Homo sapiens: one gene and its partners. The protein of the gene in region 2 interacts with the protein of the main gene of each other region in a pairwise test. Each region holds a gene or a part of one and is shown on either strand. Other genes may lie near its edges. The genes, in order: SLC10A1, ARL6IP6 and DRD2.

Region 1 (2,822 bases), on a different chromosome or scaffold from region 2:
ATGTGTTATAAAGTGGGTTTGAATGTCCTGTTTTTTTTTTTTTTTTTTTTTTTTTTTAAAATTGGTGTTAAAGTGCACTTTGAGGAAGGCACTCTGTTCTCTGGTCTGTCTTGAGGTTCAATTTTATTTTGAAAGGTAATACTCTGAGCATTTTAGAGAAGAGATGCTATGTTAACCCCATAGTGATCAGAGTAAAGTATAAATCATATTAAGTTTATTGTGGAGGTAGTTACTGTTTAACAACCGTATGCTTAAGTTTCCTTTACTGCGTAACTAGAGTTGAGGAATCTTTTTTTTTTTTCTTTATTCTGGGTTATATTAGGGTGCATTGCTTTCATATGTTTTTCCTCATACGGAGGTGCCAGTGGTGCTGTGGCTCTGATCTGGTTCCAGGAAATGAGAACCTAGTCCTGAGAAATGGAAACTTCCCCAACTCTTGCGAATAGAGGCCTTTCACACAACTAATAACCTCAGTTGTCCAAGGCAGTTTTGTCCTATGATGTCTCCCCACTGAGACAAAGCAGCCCAAATTGCTTCAGTTTTATGAGGTAAACTGCATCTGCAATTTCATTCTCCCAGCTAGAAGGAAGAAATGGAGTGCAGTTGATGGAAGTAGTCTTGGATCTTTAATGCTTCTTGGGTGCTTCTTGGGGCTACCTGGTTCTTAGTGACTTGATAAGAGTTAAAGCCCTATCCAAAAAGTCCCTGCTAGAAACTTGCTTGTTGGCAGGCTCAGGTCTAATATTGGAGCAGAACTTGAAGTGGGGATAATTTCAGTACTCACCCTTGGGAGTCTTGAATTTCTCATAGCACCAAAATATGGCAATGAGGAGAAGCCCTTCTCCAAGCTGGAAAATCATGTAGAGGAGGGGAAAGAAGAAAAGTGGTCCAATGACTTCAGGTGGAAAGGCCACATTGAGGATGGTGGAACAGAGTTGGACATTTTGGCATCCAGTCTCCATGCTGACAGTGCGTCTGCACCTGTGCCGGTGAAGAAAACCCCACATACACTCAGAGGGAACTGGAGGGAGCAACTTTGTCCCAGTGCTGCTACCAAAGAGTTTCGCAGCAGATGGAATCTAGACCCTGGACAGGGGTACTTTGCTATTGCTGCTGGTGTTTGGATACCTTTGGTGTCTGGATTTTTAACCCGTTCAATACCTTCATTCAATTTTTTTCAAGTCTAAAGTCTCTTGTCCAGTTAGTGCATCTGAACATATTGCCAGGAAAGTGTCTTGCCCAGATTTCAGGTTCCTAGCTTCTTATTCGTTTCCTGAAAGACTAGGACAAGAATGAAGCCCATGGGACAGTGGGACCTAAAATAATACCTATCTCCAGGCATGCAGTGGCTCACACCTGTAATCCTAGCACTTTGGAAGGCTGAGGCAGGTGGATCACTTGAGCTCATTAGTTCAAAACTAGCCTGGGCAACATGGTAAAACCCTGTCTCCAGAAAAGTTAAATCAGCTGGTCATGGTGGCTTGTGCCTATAGTCCCAGTTACTTGGGGGGCTGAGGCAGGAGGATCAGTTAAACCCTGGAGGTTGAGGCTGCAGTGAGCTGAGAATGTGCTACTCCCCTCCAGCCTGGGCAACAGAGTGAGACCCTTTCTTAAAAAAAAAAAAAATACCTACCGTCCATTGAGGCAGAAGAGAGCAGAGAGAACATAACCCAGCAGAAAGCCAATAAAAGGCATCAGGGAGGAGGTGGCAATCAAGAGTGGTGTCATGGCAAACATGATGCTCTTCCCCACATTGATGGCAGAGAGAACTGTGACGGCCACACTGCACAAGAGAATGATGATCATCCCTCCCTGGGAATGAAGACAAGAAAAGGCAATTAGAAGAGTTGGGGATAGAGAGGAACAGAGGTGGGGAAGCACAGGTAGAAATTGGAGGTGGGAAACATTGCAATAAAACACTGGAAGTGGAAAGGAATATGAAAGACCTTTATCTTCTTTTTGGATTCCTTTCTTTAAATTTTTTTAAAATTATTAACATTAGAGACAGGGTCTTACTATGTTGCCCAGGCTGGTCTTACTCCTGGACTCTTAGCGGTCCTCCTGCCTTGGCCTTCCAAAGTGCTGGGATTACAGGTGTGAGCCACTGCACCCAGCCCATCTTTTTAGATTTCGTATCAGTAGCTAGGAAGCTTGGGGACAGCTGATTAACACTTTGATTATTACAAACTCAGCCAAGCACAGTTACTGCTTTTGACACATCTCTGGATAGCAGACTTTCAGTGAAGTGTTACGTGAGGCTATTCAGGACTCCTGCAAAATGGATATTATTTAAAAGTCAAGTATTTTTGGAACTTATATACACATTCCTACAATACTGTCATTGTTCCACATACTTTGAAACTCATGAGAACTTGTCATACATATTTGTCTCAAATACCTTGATTACAGATAGGGATTTTATCCATTTTAGGATCAATTCTGGAAATTGCCAAGAGTCATTTGAAACAAAGCTGGTAAACAAGGTGGATGATCAAGCCCGGAAATACGGTTTTAAACCCAAAATGATGTCTAATAATAAGGGGACAAACCTACTTTCTTGAGTGACCTGCAAATTGAATATGAAGGAAGTTCCCAAAAGAACTTTCAGAAATATCTTGGGTGATAACAACATCATTGGAAACTATGCAGGTCTACTCTGAATGAAATTATAGGGTTTTTCATTGTGCAACATAGGATGCAACCTTTCAAAGTGCATGTGCACTCCATGCACTTTGTACTTTCCAGTGTGCATTTTAGAGAATTGCGTCCTCCAAAATGATAAACAGGTATGTGTAAATTTAAGACTGTCCCTTTTATCTCCT
Region 2 (3,298 bases):
GTGTGTGGTGGGGGCGGGGATGTTACTCTGCTGCTTGTGCTTTTTATCTGCATTCTTAGCTCTTTAGCTTTCAATAGTACTTTCGTCCTGATAAATGTATTTGAAGTTATAAATTACCCTTACACAGTGTTTTATCTAGGTCCTACAAATTCTGACATGTAGTATTTTCACTGTAGTTTAAGTATTTTGTTAAGTATTATTCTTCCCATTCGACAGGTAAGGAAACCGGGAAATGCTAAGATATTAAGTAACAGTTGTAGTTCAAACTCATTACGTTGTATTAACTAAAGAATCATATCTTGATAACTACAGTAATATTCTTTCTGATAACACTTAAGGTGGAACTGAATTTGGGGACATAATTTCTTGATGAAACAGCAAGATTAATAATAGTTTAATTTATTCTAAAATGTCTTTTCAAGTCCCTGAGACTAATCACTAGCCACAGGAATACTTACACCCCGTTTATCTTTCACAAGTAACTAAATAGAATGCTGTAAGCTACACATAAGGAGATGAGATCATCTGAGTCAGTTTCACAATAGAGATGGATTCCAGCTGCTAGATAAGCTCATTTTGACTTGTTTTGTTGCAAATGACAAAAGCCAATGTAAACTGCAAAGGCCAAAAGACAGAAATTTATTGACTCACGTATCAAGAATGGCAGGATTGCCACTGGGCTTCAGGGACCAGGGTAACGCCATTAGCAATATCCGTTATCAGCCTTATTCTTTCCCACTGAGCCTGGCTGAACTACAGCTGCCAGCATTTCCTGGGCTTGCATTTTCCCAGCTTCGTCACATCTTAATTTCAAGCTGAAAAATCCTGGGAAGAGACATACTTCACTGAAGTCATTTCTCTATTCTACTCATTGTAGCCAGGCAAAATGAGATTAGGATTAGCTCAGCCAGAGTTAGGTGACTATCCTTGCCTAATCATTCTGCATATAGATGATTTATATTTGGACCCTGTGTCAGACTGGAGAGAGGAGGGTCATTTCCCAAAAAAGGGGAGTAACAGTCCAGAAGAATTAGGATTCCACAAAAATATCTTACGGATACATCTCTCTCTATATTTATCTATATTAATATATATCTTGTAGGTATATATAGTCATGTTTGGCTTAATGACAAGGATATATTCTGAGAAAAGCGTCATTAGGCAATTTCATCATTGTGTGAACATCAGAGTATACTTACACAAACCTAGATGGTATAGCCTACTACACACCTAGGCTATATGGTATAGCTTATTGCTCCTAGACTATAAACCTGTACTGCATGTTACTGTACTGAATATTGCAGGCAACTGTAACACAATGGTAAATATTTGTGTATCTAAACAGAGAAAAAATAAAGTAAAAAATGCAGCAGTATAATCTTACGGGGGGATTCACTATCATAAGTACAGTTCGTTGTGACCAAAACGTTGTTATATGGCACATGACTGTCTAGGGTGTACATATCTCTATCTAGGGTCTACTGTTAATAACTTTCCTAGTCATTAGACACAAACAATCTGGAGGGAGTTACTCACATTGGTGGTGCGTGGGAATACAGAGTGGTGGAGAGAAGATAAATTGATTCTGTTACTTGTGTACATCTTTGCAATGAAAGGGCTCTTTGGAGTCAAAGGGTGAAGAGTTTAAGCGTGCAGGAAGGAAGGCAGGGAGTGAAAATAGACTGATGGCAACCACCACTCTGGTAGGAATACTTAAGCCATGGGATTGATATTTAGATACACACACACACACACACATTTCAGATAATTTAAATTGGAGCAGTATTAGTCATTTCCAACCAAAGAGTTTTGAATAGTAAAAGAAATGCGAGACTTTTAGAAACCTTGTTTAGTCGGTAACAACATTCAGTAGATAATTAAGGGAACACACTGCACAAATTCATTTCCCACTTAGCCTGAATAAGCAGTTTGACTACTTAATGGTTTCTTATTGTAAGTTTTCCTATGGCCAGGGAAAACAGCTTTGTAAGTAGTCCATCTTTCTAAAACTGAGGTAACTTTCTAAACATTAAAAGTCTTTAGTAACATAGGGGAAAAATTAAGGCTTAATTACTTAGAAAACAAAATATCACAATTACAGGAGCACATTTAATTACAAAAATTATAAAATTATATTAACTATATGTAGTTTTTAATATCTAGTATCAAAATACCTTTTCTACTTTGGTAACTAAATTTTTGAGATTAAGAACAAACTAGTTCAATCATTCTCACATACAAAAATTTCATGTTTATATTTATTAAAAACAAAATAATGCAAGTTCTGTTAAAGTAACAATATATACACCAAGATAAATATTTGGAATTGTGGAAACAGAAATAGTAAAAATTTCAAATTTTTTCTCAATATCTTAATGACTTAAATAATTTAGCTTTTTTCAGGCATTTTTTGTTAAAAATAAACTTACTTAATTTTCAACTTAGGTCAATGTGCTTTTTTGCTTTTTTTAAAGACAAAAATTAGTAAAAATGGCAGGTACTAGGTTTGCACTAGCTAAAAAAATAATGTTTACAGTTGTCTAGATGTAACAATTTTAAAAACATACAAATTCAGTATGTAGTATGAAAATACATTAAAAAAACACATAAGGAACTATGCCCCATAAAAAATATAAATGCAACTTCTATTAATTATATGAATATCAAAAATTAAATATTCTGATTTAAAAGTAGCTTCTATAAAAGTCGGAGTAGTAGGCATTATTTGCTTTCCTAAATGTATAAATAAGAAGTATTTCTAGCTCAACTAAACAGAAATATCAGTATTTCTTAGCAAAAAATGTAGTACATACATGAAAAGGCAAGCATTGTCCTGTATTCAAGTTTTTGAGTTTAAATTCCATTAAAATGTTTCCTACAACTTGAAAGAACTACACACACAAAAGTAAAAAGATGAGGTAAACATCTTATACTCTGAAGAAAGTACTTAATACTCAGATATTCCCAATTAATCTGTATCTTAATACTCAGACATTCTAAAACAATGCTTTAAAAGGTCTTCCATAATGAGGATGATTGTGATAAATATCTGAACTACATAATGAACAGCAGGTTTCTCAGTCTTCTGAGTAGACAGTGATGCTCCTTCTTGTTATTACAAAACAATCATGATTAAGTTTTGCCAACAATATCGCTCCAGTGTGGGTTTACATGAGGCACCATGCTACAGTAAGAGCAGCTACGATGCCATTCAAAATCGCCATGCTATAGCCCATGTGGAAAGAATGTCCAGTCAGTTTCCTAGAAAAAAAGAAAAACACAAATCAAAAAAGAAAAA
Region 3 (3,659 bases), on a different chromosome or scaffold from region 2:
CTGACTCTGCCTCCCACAGAAATGGGCATGTGGTCAGCTTACCTCCTATTCACTTCTAGCTTTCCTGCTCCAGGTGGCTAAGGCCTGACCTGGGTTTAGCAGGCCCTGAGGGCTGCAGCTTCATTACAAAAATACTATTGTCAGGAGTGGATGGAAGCCCAGTAGCCTCCGCCATCCCATGTTCATGTGCACATATACACACATGCAGTTTGTGAAGCACGTCTTGCCTCTTCAACTTAATAACCAAAGTTGAAAATTCCCAGACATACCCCTGAACCATTATCCCCACTCCTCATCCAACTCCGTTGTGTCCTGGGCCACTGTTTCCTCTCTGCCAACCTAGAACAACTCTTGAGTGGGGCTTGGCCCAGGACACGTAGCCTGGACTCAGTCCAGGGTAGTGATAGGCCTCCATTGGGCCTCCACCCATATCTGTGCCAGGGACTCTGCTCCCTCAGGGCCCTTCGAGGGAGCAGGGGCCCAGGGCCAGCTGAGCCTCAGGCAAACAAAAGCAGAATGTACCTGCGTTATTGAGTCCGAAGAGGAGTGGGCAGGAGATGGTGAAGGACAGGACCCAGACGATGGAGATCATGACGGTGACCCGGCGCTTGGAGCTGTAGCGCGTATTGTACAGCATGGGCATGGCCACAGCTGTGTACCTGCAAGGGCGGGGGACCCTGAATCTGGGGTGCAGGCCCAGGGACCCCTCACTCCACAATATGCACACACCAGAGACACCCTCACTCCTTGGGGCTAAACAGTTGACACACCTCTATGAAGCTTGCCTGAGATGCTAACTCAACCCTCCCTCCTGTCCCCAAACTCAGATGGCGAGGACAGTTGGCAAAGCCCAAACACTTAATCACTGGTGAGCTATTGTTTACTCTTAGCTCATATCTATTATTCTAACCGGCCCCACCTGGATTTCAGGCTTTTCGAAGAACCATGGCCTGCATCTTTGCACTTTTGAAACTGTACCCACTGCACTTGTGTTGAGCCCATAAGGTGGAAATGTTTGTTGATAAATTGTTAGCCAGGCCCCTCAGAGCAAGATTTAAGCCTTAGTTAGCAGGAAATAACAATGGCAATTGTCTACAATCCTTCATCACATTTTTTTTTTTACCCAGCCCTTCTCATTCATTAACTTATTTCATCTTCCAAGAATGGTGTGAGGGAGGTAGGGTCATATCTGTGCAAATTAGTGGAAGGCTCCAAGGATGCAGCTTAGCAAGGTGTGCATGGCCTGGGACCCTTGGCCATGTGCCAAGGACATAAAATGCATAACCAGATACTGCAGCTCCAGGCCACAGGTGTCATCAATGTAGGTTTCTAGAAAATGAAACTGAGAGCTCTGAAAACGTCCATCATCTGCCCAAGGTCACATGAGTAAGATGTGCTAGAGCTAGGGCTTCCGTCAGAATCACAATCTTTCCCCTTTTGTACCAGTCACTGTCTGAGTATGCTTGGCAGCATCACTGTCCATAGATGGCTTCTCTTTAGGGAGTGTGTGCTCTCCTAGCCAAACATACACACATGCACACCCATACACACAAACACATGGACCCCCATGCACACAGCCAGCTGCACAGCATCACAGACACGAGACACAGCCTGGCTTTGAGAAAAGCTGGGGCAGCCAGAATGGTGAGTGGCCAGAGCAACCTCTTCCACCCTGGCTGGGCTCACCTGTCGATGCTGATGGCACACAAGTTCAGGATGCTCGCCGTGCACATCATGACGTCCAGAGTGACGAAGATGTCACAGTGAATCCTGCTGAATTTCCACTCACCTACCACCTGGGGACAAAGCAACATAATGGATGGACAGCAGGAGTGGGAGATTAGCTTAGGTCCTGTAGCCTGGTACTCCTGGAGCCGATGAGGCCACAGACTCAGGAGGCAGCTGCAAGTCTTGTGGGCATCCAGCTGGGGTGTGGGGAGTGATGCCCATGGGTGTCTGAGGCCCTTGCCCCTCGCTTATCTTCTCCCAGATACATAAGACCACTTATTGCCAATTACTGTGCTAGAAGAAAGACAGCCAACTTATACGGAGGGCCTCAACTTTAAACCTTAATCTCTGCAACCTTTGTTAACCCCATGTGTTTTCTTAGATTCTGTATTTGTGTATTTGGCACCCATTCATCACAGAGACACCTATATTGACTATATTTTTCTATCTTCTCTGATCCTGATATTCTGGCACTTGGGAGCCTCACAGACCCAGAGAGAGACTTACTGTCCCAGAGCTAGTTAATTCCTGAAGACAGAAAATGACTGACTTGGAAGGATGCCTCTCAAATGCAAGCCAGCCACCCCGTTTCTCTAATTCACACACACACCAAGACAATATTTCCCCTGTCCCAAATTATCTCAGGTACCAGAGAGACAACTAGAGATCACCCCTGTAGCCCAAAGCCTGCCAGGATGTTGAGACTAGCCAACCCTAGGTTGCTTAATCTGCCCTGCCTTGCACTTCCTGTGGGAGCCCCAACAGGGCTGTAGCCTGGGCTTTCCCTCACCCCTGATTCTGACTCTTGACCCAAGCCTGCTGCTTCCCCCTGCACCCCACATGGCGGGCTGAGCATCTGGTTTCTAGGGACATTGTGTATCACGTTAAACTCTTCCCAATGGCACTGGCTTCCCTGTGTTATCACTCAGCCATACCTCTGTAAATTAGATTCCAGGTAAAATTTTAGAATGCCCGTGAGGAAACTGAGAACCAATGAGGAAACCAAGCCTCCAAAAAGTGCAGTGATTTCCCCAAGGCCTGTGGGCTCAGTTCCTAGTCCTGCTCTGGCCCAGGCTCTGGCTGAGCCAGGCAAGCCCTTCAGTGGTTGGCCCAGTACATGGCAGAGTCGGGGCCCCAAAATGATCTGTTAAGAATAATGGTGAAGATGAAGACTCGCCATGAAACAGAGAAGAAATTTCTGCTCCTTCTTATACCCAGAGAACGAAAGAAGGCAGATCTGGGCTAGTGCTCGAGGAACACCCGAGTGGGCTGGGGTAGGCGGAGGGGTTGCTGTGATGAGCTGTGTCCTTGGTAGGATGGGAAATGAAGAGTCTAGCTCCTGGCAGGAGCACGTTTCTCATACACACATGCACACAGGCACACACACACACACACACACACACATGAACGCACCGCCCTCCCCCCTCCCCACGTAACACCCATTCACACACAGGCACACACTCATGGCAGATTACGCAGGCACACACTCACGGCAGCTGTCCCTAGCGCTCTGGAAGCTTGGAGCAGCCCCAGTTCCCTGAGGATGGAGTCAGGACAGGGAGATGCACCTTTGGCTTCTACCAATAGGAGCAGAGAGGAGCGTGAAAGCCCCCTCCCGCAACCCGGAGTAGGGCAGACTTCGTGTCACCGTGTAGCTTGGCAGCAGGGCTAATTATAACCTTGCTCATTCTGATCACTGCCCTCTCTTCTGCTCCTAGGCATCCAACCAAATGCTGGCATTTAAGCTCAATGATGGGCAATGCAGCTGCTGTCATCCTGTGTGGCAGAAACAGCAGCTTGCCCCAGAACACAGCAAGCCTCTCATGCGGCACTGTCTTCCTGGGAGCTCACATGGGGGCCCCGTACCAGGGCCTCTCTCCCAGCTCCCTGTGCTGCTGCGCTGACCAGTTTGGCAGGAGCTAACAGCTGGA

What was found.
Region 1: the proteins of ARL6IP6 (region 2) and SLC10A1 interact in binary tests that used the Homo sapiens proteins (3 or more experiments, as listed by UniProt).
Region 3: the proteins of ARL6IP6 (region 2) and DRD2 interact in a two-hybrid assay, tested with the Homo sapiens proteins (one large-scale study listed by BioGRID and IntAct).

The regions. Positions count from the first base shown.
Region 1 is NC_000014.9:69,777,549-69,780,370, forward strand, and holds part of SLC10A1 (hepatic sodium/bile acid cotransporter), read right to left. Parts: intron 1,813-2,822; coding exon 1,634-1,812; intron 982-1,633; coding exon 785-981; intron 1-784. UniProt on the Homo sapiens protein: As a major transporter of conjugated bile salts from plasma into the hepatocyte, it plays a key role in the enterohepatic circulation of bile salts necessary for the solubilization and absorption of dietary fat and fat-soluble vitamins.
Region 2 is NC_000002.12:152,759,710-152,763,007, reverse strand, and holds the end of ARL6IP6 (ADP-ribosylation factor-like protein 6-interacting protein 6), read right to left. Parts: intron 3,262-3,298; coding exon 3,168-3,261; 3' UTR 612-3,167; downstream 1-611.
Region 3 is NC_000011.10:113,416,341-113,419,999, forward strand, and holds part of DRD2 (D(2) dopamine receptor), read right to left. Parts: intron 1,797-3,659; coding exon 1,687-1,796; intron 660-1,686; coding exon 523-659; intron 1-522. UniProt on the Homo sapiens protein: Dopamine receptor whose activity is mediated by G proteins which inhibit adenylyl cyclase. Positively regulates postnatal regression of retinal hyaloid vessels via suppression of VEGFR2/KDR activity, downstream of OPN5.